Linked DNA regions of Homo sapiens: region 1 is linked to region 2. Evidence: fine-mapped expression QTL. A gene starts in region 2. The other region holds a variant in brackets. All regions are shown on one strand. Distances are from middle to middle.

What was found. PIP is the estimated chance that this variant, and not a neighbour inherited with it, causes the effect.
Region 1: its variant is fine-mapped to the expression of GFOD1 in prefrontal cortex (ROSMAP, PIP 0.95).

What each region holds. Positions count from the first base shown.
Region 1 is chr6:14,147,348-14,157,483 of GRCh38, forward strand. It overlaps the pseudogene RNU7-133P. Among named protein-coding and RNA genes, the nearest start is that of CD83, 35 kb to the left of the region's middle. The variant C/T (reference allele first, on the strand shown) is at 4,563.
Region 2 is chr6:13,482,143-13,492,278 of GRCh38, forward strand. GFOD1 (Gfo/Idh/MocA-like oxidoreductase domain containing 1) reads right to left here and starts at 5,458. Exons shown (of 2, transcript NM_018988.4): 1 at 4,496-5,458. The coding sequence starts at 4,748. GFOD1-AS1 (GFOD1 antisense RNA 1) reads left to right here and starts at 4,119. Exons shown (of 2, transcript NR_046709.1): 1 at 4,119-4,311; 2 at 4,539-4,629. RefSeq lists enhancers at 2,005-2,074, 4,710-4,819, 6,380-6,509 and silencers at 4,646-4,809, 4,950-5,429, 5,450-5,829, 6,210-6,319.

The DNA of each region.
Region 1 (10,136 bases), 670 kb after region 2:
TATTTTATTCATCATGGATTTTTCTATGTTCATTTTAATTTTTGCAATATTGGAAATATTCTAAACATTTAGAAATATTGGAAATATTTTATATCTTGATCGCTGAGTTTTCTGGGATCCCCTCATGGTTTGCATCCCAGGTGAATTGCCTCTTCCTAGTCCCAGCCCCCTTTAAACCTTGCCTGAGTCAGGGGTAGGACTGATTTGAGACTGGCCAAAGACACTAGCTCCGTTATTTCCCACTAGTCGAAAGGCGTTGTTGAACTATTCCTCTAGTTAGTAACTGTTAAAGCCCAGATGGCATTCATATTTTGGCCTTTGCTCTGTCACAGCTCAAGTCATCGTCAGTGCCAAGTAGAAGAAGTAAAGGAGGCTTAGTTCTCTTGGGGGGAGTGCCAATTTTGTAGACCTTGATGGTCCAAGAACTGCCCAGGCCATGAGAAGATACAATGAGGGCTGTGGTAGAAGCACAAGTTTAATTTTGATGCCCAGCCCTAGCTGACGAGGTTTGTAGAGGAGCCTCAACCTCGTCTCCCACCTTGTCCAGCTCATAGCACACACTTGGCTGTGCACCCAGCGTACCCCCACATTCCCACCGTACGTGAATCATCATCCCCAGTGTGTCCCCCAGTGACAGGCTGCACAGGTGTGATATTCATAGCTGCCGTTTGAGGATGTAGACGGGTGACTGCTGGTGTTTCTGGAAAAGCCAGCTATTTCGTAATTGTAAAATTGACCTCTACTCCACAGCTTCACTGCACACTGGAGTATTTCCTGGCAGATCCATCTAACCCAAAATGAGATTACATTTCCTGGCAAGAAGTGGGCAACTGGTTTAAAATCTCACAGCAACCGCATGGCTCAACTTGCAATATTTCTTTACATTCACTTACCCAGGTCTTTCTGGGTCTATTAACTGGCAAGGTTAAAGGGGCAACATTGGGAGCTTGGGGTCCTACCTTTTGAACCAAGAGGTCAGTGAGAGACGGCCTGACTCTGTTAGTTTTAACTTTTCCTCTCAAACCTATTCTCCCTCCCCCATATGCCTTTCTTCAGGAGCTGTCGTCCTCACCTGGACCCAACCAGTCATTCCCAGTGTTACCTCCTTCATTATTTAGAGCCCCTCTGCTGCCAGAGCGATCCTGTTCCAGTGCTGGTTTGGCCATGCCATTTCACTTTTTTAGAGCCTTCTGGTCTCCCACCCTCACTGGAATTCTGCCCACCTCCCTGCTCAGGGCTCATGCTCTCCCTGCCTGGTTGTTTGCAGTTCAGTCTCAGCCTCTGCGGCTTTGCACACATCATACCTCCAGTCTCGCTCCAGTCTCCTGCCTGGGGGTGACTGCCTGAGCTCTGCCCAGGCAGCATGGTGGTGGGGTCTTAGGGTCCAGCATCTGGGCTTTTTACTCCTTGCCCTGATGTCAGCGGGGCACCAGCCCCTGCCCTCTGACCTGCCTGGTAGCCTCGAGCCTGGAGCTTGTCCATGTCATCCCCCAAATAAGACCCCTGCATATCCTGGTGGCAGTGGGCATGGGGACCAGTTACCCCACTGGACAAGTTGGGAAGTCTTACTGCCTCTTTTGTGACATCTAATCAATCTTCCTGATTGATTCAATGCCCTGTCTCCCACCTTCAATGACACTCTAGCGGGGCCTGTAATTCGTGAATCTGTCTGGGGTTCTAGAGAGCAGATGAGCTTATTTAGCATCGGTAACCCCTTTGCTGCAAGCACTCACAACTCTCTCAGTTTTGCTAACATCCTTGTTCTGACTTCATTTTTCTCTTCTGTAAAATGATAAAAAATTTTACATTATTTTCAGTTCTGTTAAAGGAGTGGAATGAGCTAATCTCTCAGGTGACTTTTAAGCCCAGGATTATTTTATGATTAGTCAAGGAACTTAGGTTTGGGGAAGTGTTGCGTTAAGTTTCTCTTTCTTTTTTAGTTGACTTTGGTCAGAGAGGGATCGGGGATTGTTGGCACAAGGAAAAACTGGCAAATTAAGGTACATTTATTTTTAGGTTAAAGTCAAATGTTGGTTGTACGTATTAATCTTTTTTATGATTCTCCATGTTAATAGGCATTTTAATTAGTTGACTAATGACAATGATAGTGTGTTGGATAAGAAGCTTTGTGAAAGGAAGCAACCAGGGATTGACACTAGAGAACAGAAGGACCCACTTAACAAGGCGTGAGTGATGTCACCCTCTTGTGGAGGCAGTAACCACATTACCTGCATCTCCTCCGTGACTTGGTAGGTAATGGTGTAAGGTTCAGGGACAGATGTTATTTGGACCAATTAAATAGCTTAGAATCCTTAAAAAAGACCAAGTTTTCATTATGCTTTCCAAGAGTGGACTGTAATTTTTATTTAAGTACACACAAACCACAGAAGTCTGAACTGTACTACTAGTCAATGTATGTAACTGTTCTTTGGCAAATGGGACATCGCCCTAAATTGCTACTTAGGGGGCCATGTGCAGCCACTGCTGGCAGCAACAAGTCACCGGGCAGCGCTTTCCTGGCAAGCGGGGAAGGGATCTTAGCACTGCAATGATTTTGGAAAGGAAAATGAGCAGATGTGCCCCCGCCTGACTCCCCGCTTGCCTTGGGACTCATTTGCACATTCTAGGGGCTTGGATACCCTAAGGCACACAGTTGCTTTTGGTTAATTGTTATTACTGCATGTGTAAGGAGAACTCTGGGTAAAATTGCCAAGCCTTGCGCCTGGCCCCAAACTGGAAAAATCTTTCAAACAGAAAATGAAGTTTAGTTTGGCAGCCTCATAGATCATTAGCCTGAAAATGTACACTTGGCCTGGCTGGTAGGTTGGAGGAAAGGAAACAGGACTATGCAGGGTTTGCATGCTCTGCCCAATGAGGCCAGCCTCCTGGCCCATGGGCCCCATAGAACCCAGGCCTGACCGAATCTCTGCTTGGGACCAGGTGTTCCTACCCTATCGTTTTGCTGTCAGGGGAAGGGCTGGTCCTCCCTGGTGGTATCTCATTTGCCCAGCATGAGCATTATGCTCTGTTGGATGGTACACTTTGTCTATTCGGTTCATGCTCCTCCCATGGCTGTGCCAGCTCCACCTGACTGCCTCGTTGCCCATGACCTTGGCCTCCCTTCTGACTCTTACTACCCCTACACAATCAACACCAGGACATTGAACATGGACACAGCTGTGGTTTCTTCTTCCATCTGAGGCCCTCCTTCACAAGCCTGGGACCCTGGAGGATTTTATCTGATTTGTTGCACAGCTCTCATGCATGCAGTTAACCTAATTTCTGACGTGGCTCAATTTCATCCCATGTGGAAGGAAATGTGCCAATCTTTGGACCTCCACAGCTAGGTTTGGGAGCATGTTGATATCACTGATGATGTGTGGGTTACTCAGATTTATGTGGCAAGTTTGCTTGGTAAGCCAAACCATTGGGGGCACAACCCCCTGCTCTTTCCAAACTGTGACCAAAACTATCTGCATCTCAAGGTGTTCTTTGAGCAGAGGTTATCTACTCAAGCGAGGGTTCATGCAAACAAAAGTGTCAGTCACAATGTTGACTCTGTATGAGGGAAGGGGGGAAGTAGGGGGAGATGCTGGGGTCTTGGGGGCAGAGCAGATGGGGACTGACAGCCTGAAGGATAAGAAAGGAGAAGGGAGGATTCCAAAGAGTCAAAACAGACTATTCAAAAATCGATTTCTTGGATTTTGTGTTGCCATAGCTCAAAGGGGAGCTGAAAAAAGTGGATGAGGGGTGGCCATGCCTTTGGGGTCAAATATGTGGAGTCTGAATCCTAACTGTGCTGGTCACTTACTTTGAGATATGACTCTGTACCTCAGTTTCTTCTGTTGTTGCCACCATGAAGACTAAACAACCCATCCTCACGTTTGCTCACTGGCACTTCTGGGAGTCTGTTTCAAGGCGTGGAGTGGGCATCATTGCAAGATCATGATGACAAGAGTTTGAGTCCAGGGTTGTGTGAGCTCACTGCAGTCCCTGGAGGGGAGATGCTAGGACTTCAGCAGGCACAGGAGAAGGGCATCATGTGCCTATGGACTGGAACAAATAGAGCATGAGCAAGTAATTTAAGAGAAAATAACTTAGGAGGAAATCCAAGTCGAAGCCAGGCAGGCTATCTTTTTCTTTCCCTTCCTTCCTTCCTTCCTTCCTTCCTTCCTTCCTTCCTTCCTTCCTTCCTTCCTTCCCTCCTTCCTTTTTTTTGAAAAGGAGTTTTGCTCTTGTTGCCCAGGCTGGAGTGCAATGGCATGATCTTGGCTCACCACAACCTCCGCCTCCCGGGTTCAAGCAATTCTCCTGCCTCAGCCTTCCAAGTAGCTGGGATTACAGGCATGCACCACCATGCCTGGCTAGTTTTGTATTTTTAGTAGAGACGGGGTTTCTCCCTGTTGGTCAGGCTGGTCTCAAACTCCTGACCTCAGATCTACCCACCTTGGCCTACCAAAGTGCTGGGATTACAGGCATAAGCCACCGTGCCCAGCCCAGGCAGGCTGTCTTAAGGAGCAGAGTATATTGTGTTTACTGGATCTTTCCAAATAGGGCCCCAG[C/T]AGCTAGACACTGAATGCAGATGCCCTCTGAGCAATGAATAATGGAGCACCACACTTGGATCTGGGCATTTAAACATTTATTAATACAGGACATTCCCCCTCCTCCTCCCCCTTCTCCTCTTCCTCCTCCTCCTCCTCTTCCTCCTCCTCCTTCTTCTTCTTCCTCCTCCTCCTTCCTTCTTCCTCTTCCTTCTTCCTATTCCTCCTCCTTTTCCTCCTGCTTCTGCTTCTTCTCTCTGTCTTCTTTCTTTTTTTTCTTCTTTTTCTTCAGCAATTGCCTTATTCTTTGGGATCAAATTGGTTAGAGATTATTTAAAGCTATATATGAACATATAATTGGCCACTTCTTCCTGATGTGGTAGTTGTGTGTTTGAATTTAATAATTCTAAATACAATATTTTATATTCAGCCCCACTAAATTTAATCTTGTTTGTTTTGATCTCTTGTTCCAACTTGCCAAGATCGTTTTGAGACTCAGCTCTGTCTTCCAATATATTATGTCACCCCCAGCTTCAAATTTGATATTCATGTTTGATAAACTTTAATTAACATAAATGTTGAAAAGATAAGGTTGGGATCTTCTACAAAATCTGTAGCATTCCATTAGATATCTTCCAGTTTAATATCAATCCTGTAATCCAATCTCTTTGGGTAATTGCAACCAGCCAGCTATTGATCATCTCACACAATATGTGGGATACACAATCTACTCCTCTTTAATGGTAACGGGCATGCTGCGTAGGCCAAGCCTTTACCTTCCATCCTGTCTGCACCGCATCCCTTCCAAGGGAAGCTTCTTTACCTAACCTCCTTCTCAGGCAGCCTGGGTTTATATTCTGTCATCACACCCCCTTGCTAGCTAACCCTGACTCCACAGCAATAATCCTATTAACTTTGGCCTAATGTAAAAAAACTGGATCAATCATATCCTCTAATTTTAAAATCTGAACTAGGAAAATAAAAAGAATTTTGTAATTTGCAAGTGATCGGGAAGTGAATGGATATTGTGGGGTTAAGGTGGGGCTGAGGCAAGCCAAGGCTTCTTTCTTTCTGGAGAGAGACAGACAGAGATAAGGAGGAGGTTTTGGGCTTCTTTTGTATCTTAGATTACCCTGAGAATCTTACAAAAGCTACAGACTCCCCTTGCAGAGAAATGCATAAATGAACAATTTGCTTACAGTTTTAAGATGTTTATAGACCTTCCAAATTTTGGAGAAATTGGCCCTAGAGAAGAGATAATAAAGTCAATACTGTGAAAATGAAGAGGATATACAGAAATAAATAGGGTTGGAGAGAGATGGATACCCCCAGACCTGCCTCATTTGCTGAGGTCTCCGGGTCTGATCCAGACCCTTCCACAAAACCTCCCTTCTCTTGAGATAAATTGAACGAGTCCCAGTTACTGCAGCTAAAGGTGCCTGCCTGAAATAATCAGGTCAACATCTACTCAGTCATTGGAGTCCTAAACCCTAGAGTCCTATCTCTAACTCCAGACATCACTTTCCAAAGCTCTGTGCTTGCCCCATGACCCTTCTTACTGTGCTGATATTCTGGGGTGAACCCATCCCTCTGTATCATTTATTTGCCTGTATCCTAATGATTTCTATACCCCTAGCCCAGAATGCTCCCCAAACCTTGGACTCAAGTATCCAACCACCAGCTGAACATCTCTACTTGGTTGTCCCATAAATAATATAAATGCAACATGTTCGAAACTGAACTCATAGCTTCCTTACAGACAACAAAAGAAATAAGCAACAATTTAAAAAGGCTCACACAACGGGTCTTCTCTATATATGCTTTGTGTGTTTGTTTGTTTGTTTTGTCAACAGTATCCATTCCAAGAAACCTAAGAAACATCACAGAAACCCTTCCCTCACCTAACCTCAGTCCAATCAATCACTCCGTTTTGCCCATTCTATCCTTTGGAGAGTTCTCATACCTGTGTGTTTCTTTCTCCCCACTACCACGATCCTTATTCCACCATCCTCATCCATCACCTGGATGAGGTTTGTTGCAAAATAAAACCCTAATTAGTCTCCCTGTCTCCAATCTTGACCACTCCAATCTGTCTTCCAGCTGCAGCCACATGCTCAGTTTAAGTTACAAATCTAAGACACTCCCATTTAAGGCTCTTTGGTAGTTCCAAGTAATCTATGAGATAACGTCCACAAGTCCTGTAAGACATAGGGACCTCCAAGACCTGCCTCCTGCTTATTGTCCATCAGGCCCCATCTCCTGTCTCTCCCTACCTGACGCTTTATGGCTCCAGCCAACTGACCTTCTCACATTTCCGGCCCAGACCATCCTATTTCCTGTCCCAAGACTCTGCTGGGGATATCCTTCTACAGGTGGAAGTTTTCAGGTTCCTGTTCAGCTGAATTCCTTTGGAGGTGGGGGTGTTTTGGAAAACTACATACATATATACAAAGTTACTGATGCTGTCATAAAGAAATGAGGAAGAATTGTACATCACAGACCATATGGCCAAGCATAAAACCCCCTTTGAAGATACCTAATTTATGGAATTTATCTAGTGTTTACTGTCTAAGGTGCCCAGCGTTCGTCTGATGGTCTCTTCATGGCTCCTTTATACTCCAGTTGACTTTTACCCTGCAACCTCGTCAGCAATGCTGTCCAGCCTTTCCCTTCTCTTGTATTTCTCTTTGTCCACTCTAGATTTTCTTTTTAAAAGTATAGTTTTCTTTTGAATTTTTCTACCAGCATCCTTCAGCTTAGCACTCCATTAGCAGAAGCAACATTTCTCCAGGGATGTGTCTTTGTTGGAAGGCAAGGTGAATCTGAAATAATACGTGAATTTTAACTAATAAGTGAACTTTGAAGAATATATAAATTTTTAAATAACAGTTTTTTTGGTTACAAAAATTTCTGCTCAATGAAAAAATGTTAGAAATCACACAGAATTATAAAGGGGGTTATAACAATTACCACATTGCTAACTACCACCGGCATAACATATAACATATTTCTCTCTTTCTCTCTCTCTTTCTCTCTCTCTCTCTCTCCCTCCCTCCCTGTCTGCCTCTATCCCTCTCTTTCTGGTTGGGTTTGAATCCCCACAAGAAACCAGGAGGAATCTCTCCTAGGACCTCCTGGAATGCTGAAATCAAGTCTAACTTGCAAAAAATTCTGATGACAGTTGAATGTTTTCTTTTCTTTTGACAGAAGTAAACTGCCACAACTTGGAAACCCAGTGGTACTCATTCCCTTGTTTTTAAAAAATTGATGGATTAAATATTGAATAGGTGATATATTCATGGGGTTCAGAATTTTAGGAGTATAAAAACTGGTCTTAAATATGTCTGCAAATTCTTTGACCCTCTTCCCATCAAAGACAGAGTCTAATTTCTCTCCCCTTGAATATGGCTTGCTCTTAGTGACACAGTTTCTTGAGTATCCATCCAGAGATTTTTATGCACTTGAAAAAGATATATATTCTTTTCTCTCCTTTTCACTCGTTGTTTCATATCTTTTTTTTTTTTCAGCTAGCAGCATATATTGGAGATCTTTTGTTCTTTTTTACACCTTAATAATATTTCCTTGTCCAGGTCCCTTTTTAATGGACATTTAGGTAGTTTCCAATCTTTCTCTCTTACGTTGTTGCAACAGATAATCTTGTACATACATCATTTTGCATATGTGTGGGTACAACTGTAGGATAAAGACTGTGAAATGAATTGCCAGGTCAAAGGGTAGGCACATTTGTAATTTTAATAGATATTGCCATATTGACCTTTGCGTCCATCCAATTTATTTCCCCTCCAGTGATAAATGAGTTCCCTTTACTCCAGGCCTCACCAACTGAGTATGTTATCGGGGTTTTGGATCTTTGCCAATTTCAGCAGCAAATAATTGTATTTCAGGGTAGTTTTAACTTGTATTTTTTTGTGAGTGCTGTGAACATTTTTCATATTTTAAAGAGCCTTATTATATTTACTTTTCTATGAACTGTTTATATCCTTTACTCATTTTTAAATGGATTAACCATCTTAAAAAATTAATTTGCATGAAAACATGCATGGTGGGGAAATTAGGTCTTTGTCTGTGATGGAGGAAGTAGATATTTTCCTGATTTGTCATTTGTCTTTTTGACTTTGCTTGTAATGTTTATTGCATAGAGAATTTTCATTTTATGTTTTCATGATAGAATTTTATTAACCTATTCTTTTATAATGTCTGAATCTTATGTTGGATAAGTTGTTCCCATCTCAACTTATTAAATATCCTCTCATGCTTTCTTCTACTATTTTGGGGTTTTGATTTCTTACATTTGGAATTTATCCAGGTGTAAGGTGTGAGGCACGGATCCAACTTTATCTTTTCAAGATGGCTTCTTCTGTGTTGATTCAACACCACCGATCAAATAATCCACTTTCTCTTTACTCAATTGGGATGGCATCTATATAATGTATTACATTCCCAGATGTGTTTCAGTTTATTTCTGGATTCTTTATTTTGTTCCATAGACGTGTCTGTCTGTTCTGAGGCAGTACCATACTGTTTAGTTACTGCCATTGTAGAATATAGAGTTGAGTGTGACAGCTCTTTTAGAATTTATCTAACAGGGTTTCCAGTTTTCACTGTATACCATCCTTGCCCCTCAAAAAGAGTATGTATGGTGGGCCCTCTGTATCCACAGATTCTGCATCTGCAGATTCAACCAACCTCATTGAAAACATTCAGGAAAAAAACACAATAAAAATAACAATACAATGATGAAAAATATACAAATTTTAAAAACAATACAACAACTAATTACGTAACATTTACATTGTATTAGTATTATAAGTAAGCTAGAGATGATTTAAAGTATATAGGAGGATGTGCATAGGTTATACGTAAATATGGCACCGTTTTATATCAGGACCTGAGCATCTGTGGATTTTAATATCTATGGGAGTCTTGGAACCAATCCCCCATGGACACTGAGGGACTGCTGTATTTTAATATCTGGTATATATATTCCCCATTCATTGTTCTTCTTATTCACATTTTCTGAAATAAATCTTGTTTATTGGCCCATATGAAATTTTGAATCACTACGTCTGCATTTTTAGAAATGCACATCTGAGGTACATGTTTACCAATACCTTTAAAGCTTGGATCCTGTGGCTCCTTCCTTCCTTCCTTCCTTCCTTCCTTCCTTCCTTCCTTCCTTCCTTCCTTCCTTCTTTCCTTCCTTCCTTCCTTCCTTCCCTCCTTCCTTCCCTCCTTCCTTCCTTCCTTCTCTCTCTCTCCCTCTCTCTCTCCTTCTTTCTTCTTTCTGAAAGGGTCTTGCTCTGTCCCCCAAGCTGGAGTGCAGTGGTGCAACCTTGGCTCATTGCACCCTCAGTCGCCAGGGCTCAAGTGATCCTCCCACTTCAGCCCCTCAAGTAGCTGGAACCACAGGTGCATGCCACCATACCTGGCTAATTTTTTGTAGAAATAGGGTCTCCTGGTGTTGTCCAGGCTTGTCTCCAACTCCTGGGCTCAAGCAATCCTCCCAACTCAGCCTCCCAAAGTGCTGGGATTACAGGTGTGAGCCACCATGACTGGCCTGGCCACTTTCTTCCA
Region 2 (10,136 bases):
ATAAATATGTTAATATATGTATATATACAAATGTGTATATGTATATGCTGTATATGTAAAGATATAAATATACATAAATTTAATAATGCATATTAACTGATTAAATATAATTTATATTAATATTTATATTGCTTAACATTGATTATATTACTATATAAAATTTATGTAATAAATTTAATACATTTAATATATTTTTAAAATAATATTTAAATTTTAACATATATAAATTTTCAAGCTAATATTGTTGCATGACAAAAGTAAGGTCCATAAGAATGAATGGCATGCTACCAACTGTGTAAAAGGTTTTTAAAATTCCCACACAGGCCAGGCGTAGTGGCTCACACCTGTAATCCCAGCACTTTGGGAGGCCAACACAGATGGATCACCTGAGGTCAAGAGTTTGAGACCAGCCTGGCCAACATAGGGAAACCCCATCTCTACTAAAAAATACAAAAATCAGCTGGGTGTGGTGGCACACACCTATAATCCCAGCTACTCAGGAGGCTGAAGCAGGAGAATCACTTGAACCCAGGAGGTGGAGGTTGCAGTGAGCCAAGATCGCACCATTGCACCCCAGCCTGGGCAACAGAGCGAGGCTCCGTCTCAAAAAATAAAATAAAATTAGATTAAATTAAATTAAATTCCCATACATATACTTGCCAGGATATACCTTGAAAAATATATATTATTTTTAATACTTTCACATTCAGAGTTTCACATATTTGTGTATCTCTATGTAAAATATATGCATATATTTTATGTTATATATACATCTATATATTAGTGTATATGTAAAATATATGTATATATTATGTGTTATATATACATATATATATGGCCTTGAATGGGAGACATAAACAACTGGTAATAATGATTGCCTCCTGTCCAAAGACAGGGACTAGGGGACATTCAGTCTTCACTGTGTACTTTTATAGCATTTGAAATTTGTACCACATGAATATATAGCCAATTCAAAATAACTAAATAAAATTTAAATGTTAAATGAATGCCTTAAAATAGGTGCTAGGCAAGATGGGGGCACACAGTGCTGAGACAACAGAAGGGTATGTAGGGTGGGGGGTTTGAGGGAGAGGAAGCGGTAACACTTGGGCTGAGTATTGAAGGGCGAACATGGAAGGAGACCTCAAGGGACAAGGAAGTTCCTGACAGAGACCTGGACATGTGCGCCAACAGGGCCCATTCAAGGAAACCCCAGCAGGGTGGGCTCGCTGAAGCCCTTGGGTTCGGGAATGGCCACCAGGACGTGAGGCTGGGCTCACTTCTTCAGGATGTGAGGCTGGGCATGTCACGCCAATCAGCTGGGGCTTTTCCTGAAAGGGGAAACGATGACATGACCAGGTCTCTAGCACTGCCAGATACTCCATACCTGGCAGCAGTGTAGATAGTGGCTAGAGGCAGGGTTGGGTGGGGTGGACTGGAACCTAGTTCAGAAACTACGAAAGGACCTGACTTCTATGGGGAACAGACACAGAGAGTTTCAGATGGCATCAAACAGGTTTGGGAACCGATTCCAGGGCTGGGATGGAATAAAGGACAACTCCAACAGTCTGACCTGGGCTGCCATGATCTATGGCAGAGGAACAGGTACAGCTGATGGAAGAGGAAGAAATGACTCCGGGGGAGGTAGAGTGCTGGGTTCAAATCTCTAGCTGTAGGTCTAGGAGCAAAGTGACTCAGGTCTCTGAATCTCAGTTGCTTCATTTGTGAAATGGAGCTAATATCTATCTTAGAGGATTATTTTAGTCATGAAATGAAATGCTTTATACACAGCACTTACCATGCTGCCTGGCATACAGTATGTACTTAATAAGAGGCAGCCTTGGACAGTGTAGAAAGTACACTTGGTAGAAATGCCTCTACAACAGAGGAATGCCTCATTCACAAAGGTAGGGATTTTGAGGAAATTTTTAAAAATTAAAGGAGGATGTGTGTGATTCAATTGATCTGAAGTTTCATTTCACTGTGGTCCCTAGACCACACTTTGTAGGGTCCCTACAAAGTAGGGTCCCTAGCCCCTTACTTTGACAGGCCTGTGACCAGTTATGAGTGTGGATCGAAGGCTACAGACCTGTCACCCTCACTGGGCAAGCAATTCAAAGTCCAGGCCTTTGCTAAAAGGACAATTTACCAGGATGAGTCAAAGTAGCTAGTTTCAATTCCAGGCAAACACTCGTATCTATACACTCCCAACAGCCAGATCAGCCTGATAACTGTTTGGGGTTTTTCACTTCCTACGTTCTATGTGTTGAACCTTCAACAGTGACTGTAAAGCAAACCAAGACGACCACCCCACTGTGCACTCGCAGGGGCACCCTGCAAAAGAAGGAGTTAAAAAAAGAAAGAAGAAAGAAGCTCAAAACCTACCCTAAAAACATGAACAAAACCCTATTCTGTCATCACCATTACTAAACTAGGTCTATTATGCCTCTTATCGCTGGTTTTGAAGAGGTAACAGACATGTCTTGTTAATTAAAGTCACAGGGATATTTGAAAAATAAGAACAGAAGAAGTATCCAGAAATGTCTAATTTGTGTCACATCTCTTGAAACCAGAGCCCCCAGACACTTTCATGGCCATGGTCCCAGAGACAGCCAGAAAACAAGGTCATCCTTGTTCCCCAAATTGCCACCCTCCTGCTCTAGGTTTGCTCTGTGGGTCTGAACCCAGGACAGGAACTGCCATCTTTATGGTGGAGAAACGATGTTAACAACATGGTCTTTCAGATATGACCAGTCCTAAGCTCTCCAGTATACGCAGGGCTCATCAGGGACCAGTTTTGTACAAATTGCACTAATAGAATTATACCATAAGATCGTTATAAGATATTTGATATGCAAAGAGCCAATGTAAACAAGGGAGTTATCCACCCAACATACATGTTCCATTAAACAGAAAATAAATATTAGCATTCAGTTCAATGGCATTCAGTTCAAGGCCAAAGAAACAGGCCACAAAGGGCAGACACTTAATAAAATTAACTGACAATTAAAACTGACAATGTGGGCAGCCTCCTTAGGAATTCTATCAGATGTTGCATCTGAGTCAATAGCCAAATGGCCTGATGAAAATGCCTTTCTATGGAGAAAGAGTTTTACATTCTGTTCATAGCTCTTCGAAGACAGAATTAAAACACACGTATATTTCACCTACCCTGAATCCATACCTATTTTTAACAAATAAAACAGTCTTTCCAAGACTACATAACTTCCGGCTGGTTTCTGGATGTTGTCTCTGTTCCTTCGCAGCTCCTCCCTTCTAATCTGTTCTACTATTCGCTTCATCTGGTTATAAGCTTTGTTCTTGTTATAAGCTTTGTGTTTTTCCTCACCAATAGAAACTTCAGCTTTCAAAGGTGAGCTGCTCATTTTCTTGGAATTGTAAGATCAAGCAACCTTCCTGGGATTGTTTTAGGTTACGTGCAAGAACTGATGATGAACAAAACATGCCCTTCTCTTTCCCCTGAGCATAGGCTGAGAGGCTGCTACTCTGTCCTCAGAGATTGTTCAGACTGCCTGGGAGTTGAGGGGAGCAGGGACCAGATGGTGAGGCACCCTGAACTCATCTCCAGCCCACGGGTCAACACTGTGCCTTCCGAAACTATTCCTGAAGGCGATTAGGGAGGGCCTTTTCTCATGCAAAGCATCCATGCCTCTGGAGCTACTGCGCCCATCCTCCTAAAAATTTAAAATCTATTACTCCAAATTGGGGCAGAAGACATTTCCCGGGAGGCTGCAGTCAAAAGTTAAAACCCCCTGGTTTTACCAAATCAGTCTTTACTAACCTATGACGCCTCTGAAAACATTCTAATACATCATCACCCCCATCCAACCACTCCCACCGTCCTTGCCTCCAGCGCAGACGAAATAATTCCAGCCGATGGTAACATCTGCAATCTCACGCTAAACTAACTCACAGCAGAAAGAAACAAACGACCCTAGCAGGGCGCCACCGCTGCTGAAGGGCAGGTCCTCTATCGCACCCAAGAAAACCCGACACACGTGTGCGGCCTTTTATTCAGGCGTTTCTGGGCGCGCACTCGCCTCTCCCAGGCGCGCGCGCGCACAACCCTCCTCCACCCCCCCATCCCCCCCCCCCACACACACACACTTGGACACTACACACACAGCTGAGGAGTAACTTTCCTCTTCTCGCGGAGCACCCTATCCCCTATTATCGGCATCTGATCTTCCTAGTTCGGATCCCCGGAACACACGCCTTCTCCAGCCTGCAATCTACACACGTGGGGAAGCGCGTCCAAGTGGTGCCAGGAGGCAGGAGGGAAGCGCAAAGGTGGGGAAGGCCGGGGACGAGGAAGGAGGGAGCTCTGAGTCGGATCTGGGATCTCAGATCCCCGGGGCAGCGTAGATGCAGGGTAAGCTTCTGGGATGCGGAGAGGGAAAGGCAGGGGGGAAGGAACCTAGAGAAGGTTAAAGGGCGGGGGTGGGACGGAGGATGCGGGGTAGGGGTCGCTCACCTAGGGTTTTGACAGCGATCTGTCTGGTGAGGGGCGGCGGCAGGTTAATGCACACCAAGTCCACGTCCTGATGCAGCAGCACCTCATCAATGCGGCTAGTGTAGAAGGGGACACTCATCTCCTTGGCCAGCTCCTCCGCTTCTTCCTGCGTGCGGCCCCACAGCGCCTTCACCGCGAAGCCCTCGTCTTTCAGCAGCGGGATGATGACACGGGCCGTGAGGCTGGTGCCGAACACGCCCACCCCGGGAAGCATGGCTGCTCAGAGCCGCCTGGTTCTGCTTCTGCTCGGATCTCCAGTCCAACGCGCGCACACACCCACCTCTAGCCAGTCCTGCACCCCGCTCCTGTAGCCAATCTAGCCGCGGTGCGCCAGCCGCCGTGCACCGGGCAAGGCGCCCGGGTGCCCAGAGCGCACCGAGCTGCAGGCGGAGCAAGCTCGGGGCGCCTCAGAACGGTGACTGCGGCAGTGTCCGCCACGCGGGGCTCGCGTCCTTCCCGGAGTCGGCGGCAGGGACCCCCCCAGGGCGCCGGAGGCTTCGAAGCCCCCTGGAGCCCCGGCTCAGGCTGCGCTCCCGCGGCAGCGCCAGTCCGCTGCGTGCGCCCCGCCAAGGCCGCTCCATGGCCGGCTCATCCCCGCGGCCGCGCCGCCGCAGCCCGGGACCGGCTCTCTCCCGCGTCGTTTGCGCAGCCGGCGAATCGCACAGACAAACGTCTACACCCTGCCAGAGCACGGAACCGCTCCGCGGGGGAGTCTCCTTTCTTCCTAGCTCTCCGTTGGGAATGAAATAATCCCGCGGCCGCCAGGAGGCCGGCTAAGGATGCGGCCCGGAGCGCGCCGGACTGGGATCCCGAGCTGCAGCGCGGCAGCGGCGGCCACGACCCGGCGCCAGCCTCCTCATTCTGCTGCCATGTTCGCTCGCCTCGCGGCTCGGGCGGCCTCGGCCCCAGGCCGGCTCAGGCTCTGGGATCCCGCGGGGACGAGGGCGGAGTTGGCGAGTTTGGCTGTCAGCGGCCGGTGTTCCTGCACCGCCCTCGCTGCAGCGCCGCGCGCCATTGGCCGCCGCGCGCCGCCCCCGCCCCCGCCGCCGCCAGCTCCGGGTGCGCGCTGCGCCCGGGCCCCGGGAGCCCAGCCCGGCTCCTCCCCGGCCCCGCCCAGGCCGCCTCGCCCGCCTCCTGCCCCTCCGCTTCTTCCCTTTCTTTGCCCTCACCATCTCCTTCTCTTCCCTGCTTCACTCCAAACCCCGCCCCAACCAAGCAAATACATCTATCTAGGCAGGACGCGCCCTAATAGGTTAGTCGCCTGTCCCTTGGAAGAGAGCAGTGGGCGCCTTGGCCTGGGGTAGGTGAGGGGACCCGGCGAGGTGCGAACAGCCGATAATAATAACCTCGGCTCCCGGAGCGTTTCTTGCGTGCTGAGCATCATACTAACGCCTTTCCAGGTATTGTCCCTTTTAGTCCTCGCAGCAACCTAAGGTTATTGTAAACCCATTTTACCAGTGATGTGAATGAGCCGCAATGAAGGCTAAGGGACTTGCGCAAGGTGACATATATAAGCAACAGGCCTGCGATTGGAATCCAGGCCCCAGAGTCTGGGCACGGAACCGCAGACTTCTACGGTCTCCTTCCAAGCTAGCCTGCTCCAATCGCGCGCCCCCGCTCCGGCCGCGCACGCACGGTTCAGCCGCCTTCTTCCAAGACAGTCCAGTCTTGGCGGGCTCCCATCTGCCTCCCACCTCCCCCGCCCCTAGGCCCATGCCCGCCCCCGCGTAGACGCTGTGGTGTGTACGGCCGCAGCGGGGCAGGGGGTCTCCGAGGCCGCTGCGGCACGTGCGTCTCGTGTCTAGTTTCGAGACGGATACGTCGCCCTGGCCACATGCCACGCCCGCCTCTTGCTTCGGCTCCTGTTGCCGTCGCCACTTACCGCAGCCTTTACTTCTCCCAGCTTGCCCCCACCTCCACCACCCTGCACCCTTCCCAGGCCCTCGAGGGGGCACTGAGGAGGACTGGCCAAGGCTGGCCCCGCACCTCTGGAGCCATGGGGACTCTGCGTCTGTCTGGTTTTCCGCCATATCCTTGGCACCTGGCACACTGCCTTGCCCTGTATGTAGTAGGCGCTCAATAAACATTTGCTAAATAAATGTATGCATATTCATCGAATGCCCGCTTCGCACCCATTTGGTGCCGGGAGAGGGGACTAAAAAGTGAAAGGCACGTCTTCTAGCTGAAGGTCTCTGGAGAGGTCATGGGTCAGGTCATGTTCATCTCCTGTCTTCAGCACTGGGCTCAATGTAGCACATGGTCTGCCGCAACACGAGTGGAAAACGTGATACTTGCAAGAGTTTAAAACAACTTGTAACAACTGGCAGTGAGGCGGGGCGCGTGGAGAGAGCAGGATACCAAAAAAGCTGTGTGTGGCAATGCGGGGTGGAGGCTGACCTAGGGCATTAGAAGAAAGGCACAAAGGACACAGTGCTGGGTGGCTGGCAGCAGCCTGGGGAGGACTGAGAGACAAAGAGGGGTGTTGCCCTCAATACTAACAGGCTTCTTTTGAGCAGGGGTTTTGTAAGAACCAAGGCAGGAACGCCTATCTGGGCACAGGGGCAGGCAGTGGTGTCAGACCCAAGGGGCTGGATACATCACAGGCTTGTCACATGTCAGAGATGGCCAGGCTTTCAGGGAGCAGAGGATGTGCAGTAGTGGTCGGAGCACAGCTAGAGCCACTGGCGTTGACTTCTGGCTCTGCCATTTACTAGCTGTGGGACCTTGAGCAAATCACTTCTCTGCGGCATAGTTTCATCTATAAAATGGGTGGGTAATAATGGTATATACCACAAGGGGTTTTACAGGATCGTATTCACTAATACTTACAAAGTCCTGAGAATAAGGCATGGTGCATAGTAAGTTCTATATAAATGTTAAATAAATAAATATAGAGAATGGGTCTGTTACCAATGTCATTTCTTGATGAGAGAGACCATTGTACAGTGAAGCAATATCTAAGTAATAAGATGGAGTTTTGTTTGTGTTCTTTTAAAAAGAACTCTACCCCTAGCTTGAGTGTGAATAAAAAATGGACCTTCTAAGCCTGCTGTGGTGGCTCACACCTATAATCCCACTGACTGGGGAGGCCTAACCAGGGGTATCGCTTAAGCCGGAAGTTCTAGACCAGCTTGGGCGACGTAGCAAGACCTCATTTCCTAAAAAATTTAAAAATTAGCTGGACATGGTGGTGTGTTGTGTGTCTGTAGTCCCAGCTACTTGGGAGACTGAGGTGGGATTGAGCCCAGGAGTTCAAGGCTGCAGTGGGCCTAGCCTTGATCATGCCACTGCACTCCAGCCTGGGTGACAGAGGGAGACCTTTTCTCTAAAAAAGAAAAGAGACCTTCTATCTATATAACATCAAAGAAAATGATCACATTTTATTCTCATTAAAATTTATAAATAAACATTATCTCCATTTCATAGAAGGCAAAACTATGTCCTGCTAGCAAGTCCAACTTAAAGGTTTAAAACAGAATACTTCATTTCCAACCTTACTCTCAAGCCATTCCTCCTTCATCAATAAATAAAATCACCAGTTCACCAGTTGGCCAAAAGCCATGGAGTCATCTGGTCCTCATATCCTTTATAGCCAACCATCAGCAAATCCTGTCTGCTCCACTTGCAGAATGCATCCAGAGTCTGCCCACCTCTCCCTGCCATGGTTGGGGAGTCAAAGTCACCATCATCACTATCAGGACCACTGTCCTTACTGGTCTACCTGCTTCCAGTGATGCCCCTCGTAGTCCATAGATCCCATAAAAGATAAGTTGAATCATCACCCGTCATGCTTGGCACCTGCCAGTGAATACCCTTCACACTTCAAATCAACTCCAAAGGCCTCAGCATGCCTGAAAGACTCTACCTGGCCTAACCCATAGGCCTATTGCATACCTCCCCATACCCTGCATTCCAGCACTCTGGCCTCTTTGCTGTGCTCTTTACAGGCTGAGTTTGTTCTTGCCCCAGGGCCTTTGCACTTGCTGTTTCATTTGCCTGACACCCCATTCCCCCCACCCCAACACACACACACATACACACACAAATCCACGGGGCTCTCTGCTCACTTTGCTCAAGCCTCTGCTCAGACTGCCTGGCCTGACCATCTCATCTAAAATGACAACTCTGTCATATTTCATCCCTTTGTCCAGCTTTATTTTTCTTTATACCTCCTGTCACTGCCTCACATTATATTATATGCCTGCCTATCTGTTTATCATTCATTTGCCTTGACAGGTTACAAATTCACTGAGATAAGAAGTTTGGGTGTCTCATTCACTTCTGAATCCCCAACACCTAAAATTGTACCTGGCACCTGCTAGATATTCAGTACCCATTTGTTGAATGAATGCTTGCACATTCCTCTAACAATCATGTGTTGTTATAAGTTAATATTTATAAAGTCATCAGAACCGTGCCAAGTGCCGTGTGCAAGAATGGCACATGCAATGGAGATGCACAGTGGAGTAGGACAGAGCCCCTGCCCCCAGGTTGCTTACGCCTGGTAGCCCATTGATTGATGACATGAATTGGCCATGGCAACACAACATGACGCACCCATAAGACTGGTCTGCATGGGTTGATTCGAGAGCAGAGGAGGGTTCTGAAATCTGAATGGGAAGACTGTGAAGACATGCACTGAGAGAAGTGGGCTGGGCCCAGGTTTTGAAAGACTTCCTGGAGTTAGCCAGAAGAAAGAGAGGAGAATAGTCTCGACAGAGAAAAGCTATGAACAGGCTAACTCAAGGTGGAAAGCTGTATGCGGAGGCCAGAACATGGTGGGGAGAATGAATAATTAGATTGGTGTTTTAGAGCCATTACTCAACTTCCAGTACAGAGGGTGTCTCGTGAGGGGCCACTGGACCCAGCCCTTCAGGGAGCCCACTGCAGTGACCCCAGAGTGAGGGAAAGAGGACTAAGAAAGGTGGCAGTTATGGGAATGAAGATACCAGCACAGAGATATCATGAGATAACAAAGAGATGAAGTCTCCTGGGCCTGGCAGCTAATTGGACATGGGAGGAGAGTAAAAAAATGTTGGCGTCATTTCTCAGCTTGAGGCTAGTGGAGAAGCTAGGCGTGCACTTGTGTCCTCACTAGTTAGGCAGGTCTTGCTTCATCCATCCTGGGCATGGGAGGATAACTCTGAGCATGCATCTATTCTGAGGTTCTGATGATAAAGACCTTTGCACACACAGTGCCTGTGCACATGGTCCCCACAGACGAGTCTTATTCTTCAAGTTCTTCATGTGAAACCCTCTTTTTTTAATTAATTAATTAATTTATTTATTTATTTATTTTGAGATGGAGTCTCCCTCTGTCACCCAGACTGGAGTGCAGTGGCACGATCTCAGCTCACTGCAAGCTCCACCTCCCGGGTTCACACCATTCTCCTGCCTCAGTCTCCCCAGTAGCTGGGACTACAGATGCCCGCCACCACACCCGGCTAAGTTTTTGTATTTTTAGTAGAGATGGGATTTCACTGTGTTAGCCAGAATGGTCTCAATCTCCTGACCTCATGATCCGCCCACCTCAGCCTCCCAAAGTGCTGGGATTACAGGCGTGAGCCATTGCGCCCGGCCCATGTGAAACCCTCTTAAACCG